2 separate regions of the Homo sapiens genome follow, and region 1 is linked to region 2. A link means that fine-mapping ties the variant in region 2 to the expression of a gene that starts in the linked region. Tissue or cell type: whole blood. Region 2 holds a variant in brackets; the other region holds the start of a gene. All regions are shown on one strand. Distances are between the middles of the regions.

Evidence for each region. PIP is the estimated chance that this variant, and not a neighbour inherited with it, causes the effect.
Region 1: CDC42EP3 starts here. The variant in region 2 is fine-mapped to the expression of CDC42EP3 in whole blood (TOPMed, PIP above 0.99).

The regions. Positions count from the first base shown.
Region 1 is chr2:37,667,039-37,675,146 of GRCh38, reverse strand. CDC42EP3 (CDC42 effector protein 3) reads left to right here and starts at 3,505. Exons shown (of 2, transcript NM_006449.5): 1 at 3,505-3,721. RefSeq lists silencers at 2,527-2,696, 2,917-2,986, 2,997-3,056, 3,227-3,716.
Region 2 is chr2:37,765,204-37,773,311 of GRCh38, reverse strand. The region is part of intron 2 of LOC107985869 (a long non-coding RNA gene); the gene reads right to left. Among named protein-coding and RNA genes, the nearest start is that of CDC42EP3, 98 kb to the right of the region's middle. The variant T/A (reference allele first, on the strand shown) is at 5,033.

The DNA of each region.
Region 1 (8,108 bases), 98 kb after region 2:
GGGAAGAATCCCCACACAGACAAGAGTGGGCCAGGCTCTGTTGTCGGGAGTGCCTGGAACAGCCTGAAGGCCAATGTGGCTGGGGCAGAGTGAGAGGTGAGCAAAGTAGTAGGAAATGAGATCTTATGTGAAACCCCCATGTCATAGGGTTCTTGCACACCCAAAGTGGAATGACTACTGAGTCCACAGTCTGGCTTCATTTTCTGGACGTTCAAGTGATGATAAGGAATTGCAAGGAAAGCCTGCTGTCAAACAACAATCTCCTCATTAAGTTTCACATGAACACATACAAAAAAGGACATTCTCTTTTTCCCTCTCAGGACCTTTGCATTTCAACAGCTTGAAATGCTCTTCTTTACTCCTCTTCCTATCAAATTCCCCAGGTTTAATTTAAGCTCTGCCCCCTGTGAGAATCTTCTCTTAACTCCTCCAGCTGACACTGAGTCAATCTTCTTTGTGACTAGGGGGTCTTAACCTAGGACTTCCCTGGCATCAATAGATTATTTACAGGAACTCTGAAACTGCATATGAAAAATTTTGTGTATCAATCAATATGCTTTTCCAAGGGTGCTCATAAATCCCATGAGATTTTCAAATGAGTTTGTAGCTTTGAAAGGTGGAGAACCACCAAGCACTCATGGACGGTGCTTCTCAAACATTAAATCTGCACGCAAACTATCCACATTTCATTAGACTGAAGATTCCAACTTGGTAGCCCTGGAGTGAGGCTTGGTGCTGCTGGTCCTGGGACCATACTTGGTAGCAAGAGACTAGAATGTGGTCAGCATTTGCTTGTGTACACTGGCAAGGTGCTCTCTGCACTTAGGTAGATCACAGGTTTCTGGACAGCAAGGGCACTGACAATACTACTTGGCTTTTCTCCCAAGTAGGGACTAATAGAAAAACAGCCCACTGTTGGGCCTGACAGGTGGTCTACAGATACCAGGCTTCTAAGGTTACCACCAAATGTTTTTAAGGCTAAACCTTTCCAAAATTCACAGCAGAATCTCAAAACTCCTAAAATCTTCCTGAAGCAAAGCTTTTTCCTCTCTTCCGGTAGTAGACTCCCATAACATGTTGAAACCTAAATCCATCAACTCTACAAGCTATCATAGTTAGCACAGGAAATGCACTCATTTGGAAGAATAATTCACTATATGAGGGATCAGTTACTCACTGAAGATGTTCAGTACAAAGAAATAACGTGAGGCACAGGGCATGGTGGCTCATGCCTGTAATCCCAGCACTTTCGGAGGCTGAGGCAGAAGGATCACTTGAGGCCAGGAGTTTGAGACCCTGGGGGAAAAAAAAAAAAAAGGAAAGGAAGGGAAGGGGAGGGGAGGGAAGCGGAGGGGTGGGGAGGGGAGGGCAGGGGAGGGGTGGGGAGGCGAGGCCAAAGGAGCCAAGATAAATCAAACCACCAGGCCCTTGAATGAGCAGGTCCTGGATAACTGTTTAGAGTCCAGCAGTGAAGTCTCATTTAAAAACGGCAGAGGGAGAGAAAGCCTCTAAAAGGCAAGGGATAATGTAGAAAAGTAAAAATAGGTTTTAGAATAAAAATGCCGTTTCAGACAAACTGCCACTCTATATTTGCAAAAACTGTAAAAGAAGTTATTTATTTGGCCATGTAGAAATAAAGTGCTTTTAACAGCAGCTAACAATAGATCACGTGAAAAAAATTACATACAAGACATGTGTGTCGGGAATGTCTTTATGTGTTCAAAAGGAATTTTGCATGTGGTATTTTATATATATACACATATTATTTGGACTTATAAAATACCCTATGTAATGAAAACTATGCATAAATATTTATAAAAATACCTTTTTCTAAGTAGGCCAGGAACATTTAATATTTTTCAATAAATTAATATATAAAATATATACATTAGTGCCAAATGGAACATATATTTTGAAATATGAAACCCAAGTAAAATGCTCAGGAATCTGGAGTAGAATCCAGGTATCTGCCAAAGGAAACTTTGGACGAGTTGTCTTTTGAAGAAGGGAAACAATGCTGGGTCTCTTATCTTCACGGACTGTTTTTGCTTGTCAAACTTCTAACATCACTTCAGCCGAGTTTCGTATTTGACTTCCAACCTCATGGCCATTTGACCTGCCAACTACTATTTTTCTTTGAGGCTTTTAACACCCCACCCAAGTATTTTGCTTTCCAGATTGTGTGCGTTTCCTTTTCACTTCACCTTAAAGTCAGCCTGGGTTTACAACATCGGCTTAAGGCGCACCCTCTAAGGTTTCAGACAGACCCAGGGCACCGCGGTGATGACCTGAAGCTGATATCTCTCGGCAAAGCCAAGGTATCCGGGAGGTTCTCCGCGTTGTGCCAGGATTTCCATCCAACCCGAGAGTCTCAGGGCAGAGGCCAGGCCCCCAGCGTCCGACTCCCAGGGGTCCCAGCCCCCTCCCCTGGCTGACCATGCGGGCTGGGACCTCCCAGCCGGAAAACACCGCCCTTTCCTGTCGCCTACTCCTTCCCCAGGCCGACGACTCGCGGAGGAGGAAGAGACGGAGGCCGATTAAGAAAATTAGCATTCATTAACCCGGTTCACGCTCCGGCCCCGGCGGAGGGGAGGGGCGCGCCGGGCGGCGGCGCTGGCGGTGGCCGGGTGACCGGCGGGCGCAGGTGCCACCGCGGCCTGAATTTTACTCTCTCGGGCCGGCAGCTGCGCCACTTGCGCCTCGTCGCGCGTCTGGGGCAGCCGCCACCGGCTTGCCCCAGCTTTAGGCAAATCCTTTTGAAAGACCCTGAGGGAGAAGAAACGCCTCCCTCTGGGTAGGAGAACCTGTAGCGTCTGCTGTTCGTCGCGTGTCCAGTTGCTCAGCCGGGAGCTCCGGCATCTTCAGGGCGCTTATTCCACTCTCCGGGTTTTGGCTGCAGCTCTGAGGGGAGCGAGCTAGAAACTGACAGAACGCGACCCTCCCCCTCCGCGCCCACCGGAGCCCGGGCTGAGAGGGACCTGGGGAGCTGCGGCCTGGCCGGGGCGGCGCACTCAGGTGGCCTCGCTTCCCTGCGGGTCACCGCCCGCCACTCGCACAGCTAGGTCGGCCTGTTGGGATCGGGAGAGGTGGGCGCACGAGTTTTAGTGCGGGAGTCCGGGGTGCGGGCGGAGTCCTATTGTCCCCGTGCACCCGGGCGGCAGCACCTCCGGGTCCCTCTTTAAACCGAGCGTCCGGCGACCTTTCTTTGTGCTTAGGGAGTCGAAAGCGGCATCTTCTCCGAGAGAAGTCGCCTACTGGGGGGTGGCGCTGGGGAGGTAACAATGGGCGCCCATTGTCCTCCGAGGGTCCAACGGTGACCCCCCCCCGCGCGCGCGCCCGGCCACCGGTTGGCCCCGGGCCAGGGCACAGGTACCGCGGCTGGGAGGGTCGGCCCCGCTGCCCGCGCCCTCCGCCCCGCCCCAGTGAGTCCCCGCGCCGCCGGCCCCGCCCCGCGCCGCCCCGCCCTCCGCAGGTTCAGTCCTCGCGTCCGGCCGCCCCGCGCTCAGTCGCGCGCACCTTCTCTCGCGGCCGGGGGACCGCAGCGCGGGGCTAGCCCGGAGACCCGGCCACCGGCCTGGGGCGCCTTCACGCCGTCTCGGAGCGGATAATGCGGTGAGCAGGCACCACGCCGGCAGACTCGGCTGGATCTGCGCACAGCGGCAGGGATTGCGTGCGCCCGCGGGAGGCCCGGGGCAGCGGCTGGGATCCTCAGCGGCGGCCGGTGAGTCGGGGCAGCCCAGGGCTCCTTCCTCTCTACCTGTCTGTGAGTCTGTCCCGCCCGCGGCCGTGGCCGCTTCCGGCGTGCGCTGGTGTTAGGCTGGGAAACCAGCAGGGAGTCGGGATACCCAGGGCATCGCTTTCCCATCTAGTGTCCAACGGAACGAAGGGGACATAAAGCAAGCCAGGAGGGGGTCCGGCGGCACGACCAGGACTCAGAGCTCCACCATTTGTGCCCACTACTTTTCAGGGTGGGGCTGCGCGGCCACATTGCACCCTCCGAGCTATTGGCAGAGCCATTCTGGGCGCGTATAGCATTTTTCCATCTGAGAACAAGCCGCGCTTGGCTACCGCGCCCCTCGCATCATGGATTGGTACCAGGGCCGCACATGGGTGCATCGCACAGCTCTGCCGTGGCATCGCCTGCCCGGTGCCCTCCTCTTTCTTAATGGAGGACATTGTTAGTGGGGCGCCAACCTGCAGATCTGGATATTGACTTTTTTGTTTTTTGACGGTGAACAGCTGAGACGTTTACAAGGTTTTTTGTTTTTTGTTTTCTTCCCTTTCTCCTTGAAACTAAGTGGCTTGACACAGACAAGTATCAGACATGTGAGGATGAATGGATCTGGCCATTTTTTCGTTATGAATTATTATACTCTATCCCTCTCTCGACTTTGGGAGGCATGTGTTTCATCTTATAAATAGAAAGTAGCATATTTTTGGGCAGGATCTCCTTTATACTGTGCAGTCTAGGAGAGGTCAGTTTAAAAATAAATATGCACTTGAATGTTACATTACTGAGAGCCAGGCTGTGGCTGGGACAAGCTGCGTGGACAGCAGCATCAAAGCCGGGAGCGCAGCTGTGTTGAAAGGAGTAAAAGCCCCAGAGTGCAGCCTAGGCTGACAGTCAAGTAATTACATTTTGTTTAAAAAAAAAAAAAAAAAAAGTGAGCGAATTAAAATGAGGAATGTCAGGAGGGTATTGCAACATGAATCTTTCCAGCCCTGGCGTATTTGGAGGAGTGGGCTGCTGCTGTGTGCTGAGGTTGTAGGGGGGCTCTAGGGAGGGAACTGATGAATGTGTTAGGGAGACAAAGATTCCATCCCCATCTCCCAGCTCTTAATTCTCACAATATCCAAGAGTTTCTTGGGAGTACTGCCTTTTAAAAGGAACAAAAATTAGGAGAGCAGCAGATGTCTGTATTTTAATAGCAAAGCCAGTTTTAGGGACTTCCTGTTAACATCACAGGGAGAAAAAAGACTCACCAGGAACCAGCGATGATGCCCCAAAGGTATCCCTAAGACAATTTAAAAGGCTCCTGTAATGTTCTAATTTACACAAGCTCTTTCATCTTAAAACCAGGAAATGTACCTTCTCTTCTTTTCTGGACAGTTCCAGAAGTCTACTCTTTCATACCCCCTGCAATTTGTGTGAGCTCTTATTGGTAGTTAATAAGCTACACAGGTATGTGTGTGATGCATACCCTTTTCAGAATAGATTTAGACACTCAGAAATAAGTTGGAGTAGTTGTGAAATATTTAGCATTTTCATATGTGAAATAAATGATAAAGGCCCTTTCTATAGTCAAGGAATGGTTGAAATTCTTCATAAAGTCTCCCAAAGAATGCGGGTTTCCCAATGGGCCTCACCCATTTGAATAAAACAGCACCAGCCTCTGGGCTCACAGATAAGAACTTTAGAGGAGAAATTTGGAAGCATTTCTGGATCCATGGCAGTTTCTGTTTTCCAATGGCATCATCTGCTAGAGATTTACATGATGAATTCTATGATTAGAACATGGTGCTGAGGCTGTGGCAGCAGCTACAGGCTTGAAATGAGATGAGCTCCTCTTTCCCTCAATCTGAGCAGTGAAATTGTTTCACGTATCTCTATGGAACAAGTAAAAGCAGCTAGAGTAATAAGTGTTGCACACTTTTTGCTTTTTATTGCACATTTAAGTGCGGTGCAAGATGAATAAATACAAAGCCGTAACAGTGATTGCAGAAGGGCTCACATGAGTTCATTTGCCCTGTCTGCGCTCCAGCCTTTCCTTTAATGTGGTGTTTTGTTTTATGTCCAACATGCTCACAAAAGCTGTGCTTTTTTCATGTATAAAGTTCCTGGTATTCAACAGTGTTGGGGATAAAATTGCTTTCACCTGTATCACCCAAAGATTTTTTTTTTTTTTTTTTTTTAGCCAGGCCATAGATTTTTCACAAATTCTTTGACCATTAACTGTAACATTTATCCAGTGGGTGGAATATAATTCGTAACCTAAAAACCTCCAAGAAGACTGCTCTGATCGTATTATTATTATTATTATTGTTATTCAGATTCTTGCTTTCAGTCAGATTTTATCTAGGCCCAGTCTCATTTCTTACTAACCAGAATCCTGTGAACCTGTATTTCTTTTCATTGATTGAATGAGAAATCTATTTTTAAATGCAGTATGTTTGCCAGAGAACAAGGATAGCCATTTGAAAATACTGGATTCAGCCAGCCACAAAATCTTGTGTGCCTCACCAAGCCATAGAAGACCAAGAATTTTCCTAATATATTGCATTGTTCATTACTTTGGATGTTAAAAGCACTTCCTAAGTGGAGCCCGTCCTATGTGTCAAGCACTCTTCTCAGCCTTTTGTCTTGATTATCTTACTTGTTTCTAGCAATCATCTAATGAAAGAACCGTTGTATCCCCATTTTGCTGGTGTAGAGACTGAGGATAGACCAGTTATATAACTTACCCAAAGTTGTGCAGTAAGCAAAACCTAAACATGCGTGTGCAGTTTAACAACACAATATGTGCAGGCATGAGTGGCTAATCCTATGTGAAAGTCAGCAGCTCTTTGGGTTAAGGGGATGGGAAAAAAAACTGAACTTCTGAAGCCTCCGAGTCAGGCTGCCTGGGCACATGTCCTAGTTCTGGCACTTAACACCTGTGTGACTTTGGGCAAGTTACCTCACCTTTACCTCAGTTTATCCTTTGTAAAATGGAGATAATATTATTTCCCTGAGGATTAAAGGAGTTAAAAAAGATTATGTACTCAGAACAGTGCCTGGCCCAGAGTAGCCACAATAAAAGGTTGAGGTTTTCAATGTTGCTTTTGTTTTTTTCCTAGGTACTTAATACTGGTTCTGTCATGTAATATTCATAACTATTCTTTGAGAGAGATAGTACAGTGGTCCCCAATTACCCGTGGTTTTCTTTTCCAGGGTTTCAGTTACCCATAGTCAACCATGGTCTGAAAATAGGTGAATATGGGGCATTTTAAGAAAGAAAGAGACCATATTCATGTAATTTTTATTACATTGTTATAATTATTCTATTGTTAATCTCTTACTGTGCCTACTTTACAAATTAAACTTTATAACAGGTATGTATGTATAAAAAACAACATAGTATATATGGGGTTCAGTACTGTCCAAGGTTCAGGCACCCACTGGGGGTCTTGGAACATATCCGTGGAGGATAAGGCAGACTATTATATTGCTCTTCTTTTCCAGATGAGAACACAGGCTCAGAAAGGTTTAGTAACGTGGCCAAGGTCACACAGCTAAATAGCAGAAGCAGGGTTTGAACTCAGGTCTTTTTGACCTTATACTAAATACCACACCCCCACCAATGGGGAGGAGGGGCAGAGAAGTTGTTAAATCTGATTTTTGTTATGACTTTTGGCCTCTGGCAAGGAAATAATTTCATATCACCCTGTATCTCACAGTTGAAGATGACAGTAATTGCCAGCCTTGAGGAACACTATGTAAATTATTTTATTATTAAAGATGATTCAATCCCACATATGTGGCATGAAAGTGGATCTAGCATGAACACTGCTAGGGTTAACATAAGCAGTTTAATTTATGCCATAAACGAAGAGATTTACTAGGTGAAAATGTGGGACTATATGGTGAGAAAGCAAGCCAAGCCACAGCCAGGGACAAGGACTTCTGGTGGCTGGGGATGAAGTGAAGCTCTAGCATAGACTGTGTGCTCGCTTCAAAATTCTGGGGAGCCCGGGGTTGCAGAGTCCAGTAACCACCTGTGGACAATCCCCTCCTTGAAGGCAGGAACCACACTACCTGGGCCTTCAGTCCCGGCACTCAGTGGACGTTTTAGTCCATGTTTGTTGATGATGTTGCTGCAAGAACTCAGCAGAAGAGGAGCTACAGGTAAAGTGAACAGAAAGGCACTGGGCTGTGTCCATGGCAGAAGTCAAGCCCTGTTACAGTTCAGCATATCCCCTGGGCCCTGCTAGATAAGAAACACACAACAAGGAAACCTTTGAAACCTTGTCCTTACTGCTTGCCCCGGAAAACCCACAGGGCCTGCCTTGGCCTCCACTGCTTTGATGCTCTGGGTTTGTGATTAGCTGTGGGGATCAGCTCCAGAGAC
Region 2 (8,108 bases):
GTCCCAAGATCTAGAATTTCTTATTTCTTAAAAAAATCCTTGAAAAAAAGGCCTCCTTTCTTCAGTGATTCTAAGATACTTTATGATGGCATGGTCTCAAAGCAATACTGAGAAAAAAGCCAAGTCACCTGGGCCACTGCCTGCATCATTTCACACACTTCTAGAACATGGTTTTCCCACCAGTGTCTCATGTGTTTGCAGGTGTCATCTCCACCCCAAGCTGGGGGTGTAGGGTCAGGCAGAAGCAGTACAGGCAGAGGGGAATGAAGCAGAAGGTCCAGAGTCTGTATCATCATACAGGGGTGAGCTAGGCCAGTACTTCCCACCTGTGTCCCTCCAGCAGTGGGATGCCAATCTCTACTCTAAGTGCAGATCGTTCTGAGTCACATAAGCCTGGGAAGGACTGCCCACTATATCCCCAGCTCCTACGCTGGTTCTCACTACCATGAGTTTAGAAAGTGCTAGACTAGTTGATCTCCAAGATCTTTCCTAATGCTTGAAATTCTAGGAGGCAATGAATAGAGAATATGAATGCAAAAAAAAATCTATAAGGCATTTGCCTAAGGCAGGGGTTTTCTACCCTGGCTGTGTATAATAATCACCTGGGGAGATATATAAAAAATAAAAGCCCATAGGCCTATGTTCTCAGCCTGAGGATTAGGATTCATCAGGTCTGGGGTGGACCCCAGCCTCTGCATTTCTAGCAACCCTCCAGTCAGTTTTGATGAACAGCAGGCGTCAGAGCTGAGAAGTTGGGGCTGGGGTTATAACCAGACACTTTCCCAGGCAGTGAGATGAGGGAAGAGCTGACGCAGGATTCTAACATGCCCACTTCTGTTCATGGAGTTTGGCCCACGGGTGATTGTGCCTAGCACATCTTTAGAAGATACTTCCCCAGAAGTCGACAATTAAAGATGCAGTGAAACAGAATTTGTTTTGTTTTATTTTAAACCTCAGACTGACACTTAAACCACATCCCAAGGGCAAACATCTTACAGCTTAATGGATAGGTAGCCACCAGCCTTAGCCATTGCTTGGAATCAGATGGAAAGCAGTGCTGGCTGCCCACCCTAGGAGCACTGGGGACCTGAGAGGAGAAGGGCCCCTGTAAGTGGTGGCCTTCTCAGTGTCCTCTGGCTGCAAGCAGAGCTGACCCAGCCTTCTGTTCAGAAGGTCTCAGCTTCAGGACAGAGAGGCTGGCCTGGGTGGTGGGGTAGGACAGAGAGAGCAGGAGTTCAGGAAGTGGATCAGACCAGCTGCCCAGGCCAACGAGGTTTGTTCTCATAAACCAGGCTGAGTTCCTGGGTGGGGAGGACACTGTGGCCCCTGTTTCATGGGTCCTCACATGCACACACACTGGAGAGCAGTTCAGCAGCCTGACTGCTGGGCAAGTGCTGCCTGTTGCCTGGGGTTGTCTGCTCCTGCTCAGGAGGATGAGCCAAAAGAGATGAATCTTACAGATGACTGGAGTTTAGGGTGAAGTGCAAGCCCAGAAAATAGGTCTCATTCCTGCTACTCCCTCTCGTATATTCTACAATTCAGACAAACTGCATGAGTCATTGCTGTTTAGAAAAATCCTCTGCTTCTCCTCTTTTGTGCATTTGCTCCTGTTTTTCCTTCCCTACCCCATCTGCTGGACTCCTACACATACTCCCAAGCCTACGTCAAATGTCTCCTCTGCTCAGCTCCCCATAGGGTGCAGTGATATCTCTCCCCTTGGGAACTGCCAGAGTATACTGCATGTATCTATCATCTGGCATCTCTCTTACACAGCTGTGTTTCTTATCCCCTTCTATTGCAAGCACTCGGAAGGCAGAGACTGGGTCTTTGTCTCCCTTTGGCCCCAGCCTGTTTCCATATTGTGCTTTTTATGTATTATAGCAGGCACCCATGAATGTCTACGGAATGGAAGTTAATTCTGGGCTGACAGTAATTGTAAAGCATCACAGCCCTTGCTAGCTGTCATGGGGAGGCAATCCTGGGCACTGTCTCCATCACTGCTGTCACCATGTAGCATGATGAGTCCTTTCTCATGCTGCTAATAAAGACATACCTGAGACTAGGTAATTTATAAAGGAAAGAGGTTTAACAGACTTACAGTTCCACGTGGCTGGGGAGGCCTCACAATCATGGTGGAAGGTGAAGGAGGAGCAAAGGCACATCTTACAAGACAGCAGGCAACAGAGCATGTGGAGGGAACTGCCCCTTATAAAACCATCAGATCTCATGAGACTTATTCACTTTCACGAGAATAGCATGGGAAAAGCCCGCCCCCATGATTCAATTACTTGCTACCAGGTCAATTCAAGATGATATTTGGGTGGGGACACAGCCAAACCATATCACATGGCATCAGCAGATGGCTAGACTTCCTGAGCAGAGCCAGGGACTTGCCTGGAAGGTCCAGACCCCTCTGAGTTCCAGCTTCCTTGTGGAGTTGAAAGACACTCCAGTGTGTGTTACACTTGGTATCCTACTCAAGAAATAGTGAAAAAAGGACATTTACACCACTGGGAATAAAACTTGGGTGTAAACATGGTTCACACTTTACAGCTGATGGGTCAATTATCTGATTAATATGATTGATCATTTATCATAATGTAACACATTATGTCACATACCTTTTTTTTTTTTTTTTTTTTTGAGATGAAGTCTCGCTCTTGTCACCCAGGCTGGAGTGCAATGGCATGATCTTGGCTCACTGCAACCTCCACCTCCCGGGTTCAAGTGATTCTCCTGCCTTAGCCTCCCGAGTAGCTGGGATTACAGGCCTCTGCCACGACGCCCGGCTTGTTTTTGTATTTTTAGTAGAGATGGGGTTTCTCCATGTTGGCCAGGAGGGTTTCAAACTCCTGACCTCAGGTGATCTGCCCATCTCGGCCTCCCAAAGTGCTGGGATTACAGATGTGAGCCACCGCACCTGGCCTCACATACCTTTCTTAAGCAGAGTTTTTAATGTTTATAAATCTTACCTCCTTAAGAACAATTAAGTTTCCTGAGAACAAAATCGGTCACTACAGTGGTAGAAAGGATATGGGTTTTGGAGTCAGACAGAGCTAGATTTGAAGCTCGGTTTTATCATTTCATGGCCAGGTGCTGCCATGATTATTTTTTATGTGTCTACTTGCCTGGGTCACATGGTGCCCAAATATTTTGTCAAACATTATACTGGATGTTTATGTGAGGATATTTTTGGATGATATTTAACATTTGAATCAGTAGACTGAGGAAAGCAGATTGCCCACCATATGTAGGTGGACCCCATCCAATCAGATGAAGGTCCAAATAGAGCAAAAAGGCTGACCCTCCTCTAAACATGATAGAAACTATTCTGCCTGATGACCTTTGAACTAGAAGGAAAAATTAGTTGTTTGCTGCCTTTGGACTTGAAGTGTACCTGTACCTCAAGCCTGCCCGCCTTCATACTGTAACTACACCATTGGCTCTCCTGGGTCTCCAGCTTGTCAACTCACCCTACAAATCTTGGGCTTTGCCAGCCTCCATAATTGTGTGAGCCAATTCCTTCTAATCTCTCTCTCTCCCAGTAGTTCCTTTTCTCTGGAGAACACTGACTAATATAGGCACTTCTGTATTAAGAGCATTCTGAACAGCATTATGTTGCTAGGGCCCTGCAATGGGAGGCACCTTCTCACTTTCATCACCTGGAACCTGCTCATCCGCATGACACAGAGGAGGTATATGTGACATTTGTTCACCTGCTGACCCCTTTGTCACAGTGTCCCCTTTTCCGTGGGTACTTCTGTCCACATCCTCTCCTAGAGTGTTTGCCTCAGAAGTGCTTGAGAGGATTAGCATCCAGCAAAAAGTAGGCTCTGCAATTAAGGCTCAAATTAAGAAAAACAAATGAGTTTACACTGGCCTTGGGTATTTCCAGTAGCTGGAAAATCCCACTGTTGGAAACCTACTGAAGTCATCTCAATACAGTATTTTATAGATCCTGCAGCAGCAGGAGATGAATTAACCCGAGAAGACCATAGTGGCGGGGCAGAAAGAAAGCCTGTCAATGACCAGATCTTTTAAAAACAAAATGGCTGTTTCTGTTTTGGTGTATGTGTGGTTGTCTTTATTTTGGATGCTAAGGCGCGTTTCTTTCCCCCCCCACCCCGCCGAGAGTTTCAAGAAAAGAGAGCCCCATCTTCAATTCACTATCCAGGCAAACAACAGTGAGCATGGCTCCTCTTCCAAGATCCCACTCCAAAAAGTGACACCAGGTTTTTGACACAGACAGCCTGTGGGCACACTGTAAAGAAGTGGACTTTGTTTTGACAGGGGCCTGTGGAAGCGGACTTTTAGTGCTCAATCCCTTAAACACATAGTGTTATGAATATGGCTTTGACGATTGTTAGCAAAAGTGGATTTGTCACACAGCCATGAAACCAGCAGCTGTGTCTTTGCCACAGAGTTTGACCCCATCCTGCATATAGACAGGCATCGTGTGTAATTACTCAGCATTTGCCACACAACACAATAAACTCGGGGTCTGCCCACTGGGGACATTTATGTGTCACAGTGGACTGGATTAGGACCGAAAAAGAATAGTTGTGGTGTACGCTCCATCCCAACTGCTCATTCCCTCTCCTTGACCTACCCTTTGTGGGAAGCCAGGAATGCTAAATATTTCTTGTAGCTCTGCCCAGTCCTCTACTTTATTTACACTCCCCCCAACTCCCCAGCCTTAGCCCTGTCTCCTCCTGTGGCAAGCTCAGGCTTTCTTCCCTGAGCTGTTGAACAACTACATTTTTTGTCTGAGATGATACATCAAAGGTATTTCAAATAAAGAAAGACAAAAACATAAAATGATGTCTGCTGGACAGCCAGCCGTGCTCTGGCAAGGATAATATGCAATCTTACTTAATGGACTTCCTGATATTGACAAACTGTACCAAAGTTTCTAGGCCAGAGATAAAACAACTTTTTTCAAAAAGTGAAATAAGATAGAGGCAGTTGAAGGAACAGGAGGTGGAAGATTGATGGGGAACATTTTTAAAGAACCCACGGGCCACTCTGTATG[T/A]TTGTTTCCTGAAGGGCAAAATTAAGCCCTTAGAGCAGATCTTTCATTTTTTGGTTTCTTTTCTAATTCTAGAATCTCCTCTAACCACAATGGGCAAGACAAGTGGGAATGTGACTTCCCCTAGAGTTATTGCTACACATTTGTGAGGACATTTTCTTCAACAAGTTTGTTTTTCCCCAAAATACATTTCCAGGCAGTATAACCCTAGAGGTGGAGCCTCAGGGAAGCTACACATGCTTCAAGTGTGCAGTAATTGCAAATTGCTAAACAGAAAAATACAGGTATGGCCATGTGTCCAAGTCTTTGTGGGGCATGCTCCACTCATGCCTGTTGACCTGGCATGATTATTAATAGTTCTCTCTTTCAAAAATGTCCAGTTTGGATAATAAATTCTATGAACACCCTGACTTTCACCAAATGTACCATTTCTGAGGTCCATTTCAAACATGGTGTACAAATAACTGGTTCTACAGCCGGTCTGGTGGTCAGCCTGGCCCTGCTGAGGGGAGGGATGACATCTGAATGCACAGCCAGGTGGCACGGTGGTCTCAGAGGCTACAGTGCTGCTAGCCCCTTGGGGTAGGTCCTGAGCTTGGCACCCCGCTGCTGACTGCATGTTGCAAATGAGATTTTTGTTTTAAAGCCCTAGACTTGAAAAATCAGACACTTGGCTTTTGAACAGAAGGCAAAGCAGATATCTGGGTCTCTTCTTCCCCACCTCAAGTCCTCATTGTCATGGAGACTCCTTAACATCTGTGAGTGGATATGACCCCACCAGCTGAGGCAGGCTTCTCTTAGCCCCATTTTCCCTCCATGATGGGTGGAACATCCTTAGGTAGAAAGAAAAACACCCAACATACTTTTATTAGCAAGTGTCAAAAATGTATCAGAGAGTTTTCTCTGATGTCCATGCTTATCCAATCAAGCTATTTGCAATTCCATGTGAGTGTGGGGTTGGAGGTAGGAGGTAGATTTTGGAGACTGGGGAAGAGGAGCAGAGAAGGGGTTGATTTGTGGTGTATCCTCAAGGCATGCACTAAATATTTGACCAATGAGTATGTGAATAATTGCATCTGTGGAGGAGATTTTTGTCCAGTCAATAAATTTTAGCATATTAGAGTTTTGCTTATCTTTAACAAAAATTCATAGTAACATATGCACTCATTTCCAGACATTTTTTCCTAAAAATACTACATTTGGGTGTGTTTCATTTTACTCCTTAGGCAAAGCTGATTTATAATTCTGACAGTGCACCTACAAAATGAATATGAAAAATGCCCTGTTTGATTTGTGTTTTTTATTTTAACTGGGATTAATTTTAAATGAGTTGAGAAGAGACCTGTGATGTTGCAAAATGCCTCTTTAACTTCCAAGTTAACCATGATATTGATGGACACAAGATAGATGCAAGGTCTATAATTAAAACTTGTCTGCCAAGTCCCACTCTGTTGAATTTGGGGCGATGTTGCATGGAAGCGATGGTTTTGGTTAAACTCTAGGTCTAAAAGAAAAATAAAATAATAACTTAATTGTCAAACCTATCCACATCTATTTGCATATGCCATATGATTTCTAAATAGGGTAAGACACAGGAGCATTGAGGAAATAAAAAACCTGTTGGTTTTTAATGCGGGTGTATCTTTCTTCCCTGTTTTGTGCCTGGGCTAATGGGCCGATGGTTAAACAGTGGAATATTTAGAATTGGAGAACTTATCAATGGACTTAAAAAATATCTCTGAATCTTGTAATCTACTTTGAAGAGATCCTCTGAACAGAGGGCATGAGCTAATTCAAACAAGGAATGACCTCAATGAGAAGAACTGAAATAAAACTCAAATAGTGAATATACACACTCACATGCTGGTGAGCTAAACAAACTGAAACTCAAGTTTTAGGCAGTTTACAATCAGAGTATATTTGTTTGATAAACAGTGTTTGGACAGAAGCTTTTCATATCTTTTTTGCTAGATACTTCATCATCTATTATCTCCTCTTTTCAAAGAATGCCTCCATGCCATTGCTGTGGAATTCAAGACACAGCTCTGTTTACAGAGTGAGCTGGTGCTGACGGCCTGCCTCCCGTCAACTCCTCCCCTTCCTTTCACTAATTAACATTCTTGACATTTGACTTGACAGTCGTATTTTAGAGGGTTCAGACACAATTCTTGTAAACAAAAATAATATTCTTGCTGTGAATTCTTACTCTTTTAGAAGAAAGAAACTGGTGCTGGTGCTGTTTCCAAACTAAAACAAATGCAGTTGATTTTGTCAGTTACGAGTTTTCTAAGATTTTTGTTGTTTTCTTTCTATTTGCTTCAGAATGCACCAGAGAACTTCTCTGTCATGAACTTGGTCTGCTCTTTTAAAAGATAGCTCTTTTATAAAACAATCAGAATGTATTAGAGGTTTTTAAAAATGTGTTATAGAGTGTTTTGATACACGGTGTGGCGTGGATGTCATTTAGTCCTGGAACCAAAATGGATGTGAAGAATACTATAACTGATAAAAAGGAGAGTACTCCTCATCTAAGGAAACTATTTCAACCTAGACCAAATGGGCTTTCCTTTGATGAATCACAAATACCAGGCTTAAATCACTTCCAATACAGATTATGTATCTGTCACATTTTGCTAACTTGGAGATGTAAACTACTGTTCTGATTCCTAAATTATTCCTCTGGTCAAAGTAAATAACAATCTTTAAATTAAACTGAAAATATATTAATAATTACTTTAGAAGTATAAAATGTATACAAGCTGCTTGTATAGAATACAGAATTGCTTTGGTCCTTGACAGACCAAACATTATCAAAATATTAATAACAGCAGTGATAGTATATTGCTGACATTATACATTTACATCAGCAAATTTCTTTCCCAGAATATCCTGAAACTCTAAAACTATGAATCGAAGTCAGCTTATACTTAATAGCAATTTTTATTTACTATGTGCATTAGTTACTGGCTATCTTTTAACTGTTCCCCCTTTCTTTAACAAAGAATGATAGGTTTTCCATTTCAAAAGTAAGATAGATCAAAGTGGGACTTTTTATTTATACAATTAAGTACAGTCTTAT